Regions from separate parts of the Homo sapiens genome. Here region 2 is linked to region 1. The links come from fine-mapping of genetic effects on gene expression. Tissue or cell type: whole blood. Region 1 holds a variant in brackets; the other region holds the start of a gene. All regions are shown on one strand. Distances are between the middles of the regions.

What was found. PIP is the estimated chance that this variant, and not a neighbour inherited with it, causes the effect.
Region 2: LY75 starts here. The variant in region 1 is fine-mapped to the expression of LY75 in whole blood (INTERVAL, PIP above 0.99).

What each region holds. Positions count from the first base shown.
Region 1 is chr2:159,405,267-159,407,953 of GRCh38, forward strand. The region is part of intron 14 of BAZ2B (bromodomain adjacent to zinc finger domain 2B); the gene reads right to left. Among named protein-coding and RNA genes, the nearest start is that of WDSUB1, 120 kb to the left of the region's middle. The variant G/A (reference allele first, on the strand shown) is at 1,614.
Region 2 is chr2:159,903,378-159,906,064 of GRCh38, forward strand. It overlaps LY75 (lymphocyte antigen 75), which reads right to left and starts at 1,379. Exons shown (of 35, transcript NM_002349.4): 1 at 1,212-1,379. The coding sequence starts at 1,305. It overlaps LY75-CD302 (LY75-CD302 readthrough), which reads right to left and starts at 1,379. Exons shown (of 38, transcript NM_001198760.1): 1 at 1,212-1,379. The coding sequence starts at 1,305. RefSeq lists enhancers at 291-340, 391-440, 661-710, 851-930 and silencers at 1,111-1,570, 1,340-1,581.

The DNA of each region.
Region 1 (2,687 bases):
AGTGGTGCGATCGCGGCTCACTGCAATCTCCGCCTCCCAGGTTCAAGTGATTCTCCTGCCTCAGCCTCCCAAGTAGCTGGGATTACAGGCGTGCGCCACCACACCCAGCTAATTTTTGTATTTTTAGTAGAGATGGGGTTTCACCATGTTGACCAGGATGGTCTCCATCTCCTGACCTCATGATCTGCCCCGCCTCGGCCTCCCAAAGTGCTGGGATTACAGGTGTGAGCCACCACTCCCAGCCGAGGATATAATATTTAAGAAAATTGCCTAAGGTCAGACAGATACCAAGTAGAAGAGTGGTGTGGTAGACAACGTCATGTTCATTCCAACGGAAACTGAATGTTCATTCCAATGGAAATAATCAAATTATTTCATCAAATATGATCCCATATCTAGGACTACATAAAAATGAGGTTTCTTTTAATCTTTATCAGAGAGGCTTATTTAAGTACATTTTTTTTCACATTTCAAGTAAACCCCACTTAGTGGGAAAATAGCTGCTAATATTTTAAGACTTGTAATGTAGCTTCAGTCTTAACATATAAAAAAAAAAGAAAGACTCTCAATTAAAACAAATACAAAGTCCCCTCCCACCCAAACTTAGTATTTCAATTAGCTATAATGGTTAAGTTCCTGAATCCAGTGATATTTTCATTTATGAAGGAGAGGGACTAAATCTCCTAAATAAAAAGAAAGCAGAATTTCAATGACTTTTAAAGACAACCTAGTTCTTATAATCTTCAAGGATACATGTATGAAACTAGGGTAGATGAACAAAGTTAATGTCCCCAATTCTTCATTTCTCCTTTTATCCATGACATTTGTAATGTGACTTTGGAGCAATTCCCATCAAGAGGTGGAATATATTTTCCCGTCCCTTGATTCTGAACTCAACCATGTGATTTTCCATGGCTAAGAGGATGTTAGCAGTTGTGATGAAAACAGAGCTTGAAAGTTTAGTTGTATTCTTTCGGCTTTTGTTCTTGTGCTTTGCCCAAGACTGAAGATATGATTTGGGGGCTAGGCTATTGGGAGATTGGGACACAGGGAGCAGTTGACCCTACAAATGTGAACAAGCCCAGCCAAGATAAGCAAAGCTGCTTAGCTAATTTCCAGCTGATTCCATGTGCACAAGTGATTAAGACAGTGTTGTGTGCTACTAAGGTTTGGTGGTTGTTACCAAGCATTACTGTGGCAAAGGGTGTAACAGACACAGAAACCATGTAATATCCTTGCTTTCTTCTGCTGGCAAACTTGGTCTGAATACTTCAAACTCTAAAAGTGGTATATAATATTACTCATATAATCATTTTAGAAAGCATCACTTTGTATTATACATTGTTTAAATTTTGTAGCCACTGAACAAAGAAACCTAAATTATGTTCATTGACAAGGAACATAATTGCTAACACGTGAATCACTTGAGCTCTAAAAATTTCCACCATTTATTGATCGCAGGCACTATTGTGTTAAATTTTTCTTTTTCTTTCTTTTCTTTTTTTTTGAAACGGAGTCTTGCTCTGTTCCCAGGCTGGAGTGCAGTGGCGTGATCTCGGCTCACTGCAAGCTCCACCTCCCAGGTTTACGCCATTCTCCTGCCTCAGCCTCCC[G/A]AGCAGCTGGGACTACAGGCGCCCGCCACCACGCCCAGCTAATTTTTTATACTTTTAGTAGAGACGGGGTTTCACCGTGTTAGACAGGATGGTCTCGATCTCCTGACCTCGTGATTCACCTGCCTCGGCCTCCCAAAGTGCTGGGATTACAGGCGTGAGCCAGCGTGCCCGGCCTGTTGTGTTAAATTTACACCACCTTGTTTAATGTTCACAGCTACTTAATAAGATCAACATGATTGCCCCGCTTACACAAAAAATAACTAAGGCTCCTAGAGGTTAAATAGCATAGCCAAGAAAAAAACCCACAACTGGCTGGGCACAGTGGCTCATGCCTGTAATCCCAGCACTTTGGGAGGCTGAGGTAGGTGGATCACTTGAGGTCAGGACTTCGAGACCAGCCTGGCCAACATATGAAGCCCCCACCCCTACTAAAAATACAAAAATTAGCCAGGCGTGGTGGTGGGCACCTGTCATCCCAGTTACTTGGGAGGTTGAAGCAGAAGAACTGCTTGATCCCGGGAGGAAGAGGTTGCAGTGAGCTGAGATTGCACCACTGCACTCCAGTGAGACTCTGTCTCAAAAAAACCCCCAAAGAAACCCCAGGACTTTCTGACTCCACAGTCTATATGCCACTATTTCTAAAAATCTTTAAGCAAAGTTTAAATGCCTTAAGATTTTAGCTAAGAACGTAACCATATGTCCTCATAACAGCTGAAGTGAAGTTGGTCACTATGGCCAGTTTTCTATCACTGAGACTTTTAAAAAGGAGAAGAGATTAAAAAAGTCGAATTTCATCTAGTAAACTGGAAGTGTTAATGAAAAATAAAATGGAAGATGATGATAAAGTATTATCTCCAATGTCCCAACCATTTTCAATATTAGGAGGTTACAGGCATCATCAAAAATTTCTGGGTCACACAAAAAAGATGTCCTGTTCACTAAATACTCTAGGACATAAAAACCTATAAACTGACCTTCAGGGTCAGCAACCTCTGATAATAATATGGGTGAAGAATATTATTCTCATCTATAATAATGCCAGATAAATATTTCTTTAACATTAAGAATTGAAAG
Region 2 (2,687 bases), 500 kb after region 1:
ATTGTGGGGCAGGCAGAATAAATTATCAAGGCAATAAAGGATCTTATTTTAAAGGATTCTTTTGGTAGTTCCTAGCACACAGGGTCAAAGGAGAATAGAGAAGTGTGACTCAGAGCAGGGTTCATTTCCAGGTCCTTGCTGTAGATAGGATGATGCCATTCACACTCTGAGAAATCTCTTCCCATCGCTCTCCGAAGGAAGTCTAAACCAGATGGTAACTTAGCTTAGCTGCAAAGAAAATAAGAGCCACCAACAATTTAATGTTTTTCAAACTGCCTGGACAATCTTTTCCTTCCTCATACAGGCACGATAACAGAAGTGGCCGGTGGAGGGTGGCCCATTGAGTGCCCATGATGCAGTCCAACCAAGAAACAAAGTTCTCTGCACACCCCTCGCCCAGGCAAAAAGAGAAAGTAAAAGCAACCGGTTGCTGCCAAGGGGTGTGGTGTGGTGGGGCTGGCACTACCCTGAACATCAATGAAGGCTGTCTGTTTCTGGTCCTGCTTCCGCAGTGAGAGGCAGCAGGTCCCCAAGCAGGCGACCTGCCCTTCACCGTGAGGCTGTCAGCCTTGGGGGAGCGGGGTCATTTGGAGCTGATAAACCAATGAGAAGAAAGGTTTGTTGCTCTAGGCGGTGGGTGAGGGCATCATAGCTGACTCTTGGTCTTGGTCACTTTCGGAGGAGATGGTTTATTTAACCTGACTTCCTTCCTGATGCGCACCGTAGGCGCAGTGAAATCCGGGAATCGTGGGGAATCCTTGGCGCTGTGGGTGGAGGCTCCTCTTGGCCCTGTGGCCAAGGTGACCAAGGGCCGAAGGAAAAGCGAGAACGGGAGGGACGGGACGCAAGAGGGCAGATGGGGAACCCCATACTCCAGCAACATTATATAAGAGAGGCGACGATGGAGCAGCGCACCCGGCCAAAAAAGCCTCCGTGCGCCTACTCTACGGTGCACCGCGTCCCCTCTGCACCAGAAGGGCCCTGTCCTCCCACATCCACCGCGCCCTCCTCCGGGCCCCCGAGGGCACTGGGGCGCTTCCTCTGCCAGACCTCCCCTGCGACTCACTCTTCCGGCTCCAGAGCCCCCCCGCCCCAACAGCAAAGCAGCCGTGACCTGCCCCAGGGGCGCAGCCCTGCCCCAGGCTGGAAGGCAGCAGAGCTGTGGCGTCGAGGCACCCAGCGGACTGCGGGGCTGGCGTGCCCGCGGTTACCTGCGCGGCCAGAGGGCTCCGCGAGATCGAAGAACCAGAAGAGCAGCATGAGGAGCCCCGCCGGGCGGCGAGGGGTCGCCCAGCCTGTCCTCATCCTGAGCTGGCGCAAGCCTTCCGGCCGGGTCCTCGGGCGCACGCGGCTCCCGCCCCGCCTGCTGAGCGCGGCCTGCCCCGCCCGCACCTCTGTCTAGGCCTCTGGGGGCGCCCCGGCCCCGCCCCCGCCGCCCTCGGCCAATCAGACGTGCGTCTCCTCGGCCCCGGGGCGGAGCGGGCCAGGTGTGGGAAATGAACAGGGCTGGGCGCTAGATACCTGCGTGGGGTAGGACCCGCGAGGAAGAGGTACGTGCGGATCGGTGGGAGAGCCAGGCACCAGACAGGCTCCTGCACTGGAGGGTTCGGTCCCCGCCTCTTCATCAGCCAAGCTGGGGAGATGCGGCCCTTACTGGGACTTGGCACCGCCCTGGTGGGTGGGTTCTATCAGTTTAGAACCTTGGCCTCTGCCTGGCGCACTGTGGTCAGGGACGACTTCTCCATTCCAGCCTGGACTGGAAAGGGACCCATGATCTCTTCTACCCCGGAGGAGGAAGTGAGCACCTGCCCTGTGGGTGGCTGCGGCCAAGCCTAAGAATTCAGTCGTCCTTGGCAACGTCTTGGGTATTTTGACAGTGCAAACAAAGGTGGAATAATGGTACACTGCAGTTCTACCCATAGTTGTTAAAGAATTAAAAGCAAGAATTACTAGAATGACCAAACGACACTTCCAAGGATGACTTATGCTTTATAAAAAGTTGACCTTTGCGAGTAAGCTCTTTGCTTAATAATTTAATGATAATAATAATTAGCTGGTAGAAATGTAGAAGTCTGCATGCAGAACCAGAAATTTCATGTCCCACTCACTCTCTTCCTGTGGACACTGCTATCATTATAAAGAGGCCAAATTCTTAATGACCTAAGTTGCTCAAATGTGAATGTTTTATACTTTTAAATCTCGTCTTTGCTGAGCACATAATGTGTACTTGAGGTGGCCTCCATCCTTGTTGCATGAGGATGCAAAGACCTAGGTTGCTCTTCCTGACTCCCACTGCCAAGGTTTCACAGTTGGCTCCCAAACCTGCTCTGTCCTCTCCCCAGGGTCTGGCCTTTCAGTTCCATAGATATAGTGAGCACCTGCCATCACAGGATCTGGGCACGCCATGGAACAGAAGGACAAAAAGACAACATCTCTGCCCTCCCCTGAATACTGGGGAGACTGAGGCACTGTGATGGATAATATTGTCAGCTCGATTGATATGAACGAATGCAAAGTATTGTTCCTGGGTGTGTCTGTGAGGGTGTTGCCAAGGAGATTAACAGTGGACTGGGAGAGGCGGACCAGCCCTCAGTCTGGGTGGGCACCATCTCATCAGCTGCCAGCATGGCTAGAATAAAAGCAGGCAGAAGTTGGAAGGACTTGACTGGCTGAGTCTCCTGGCCTTC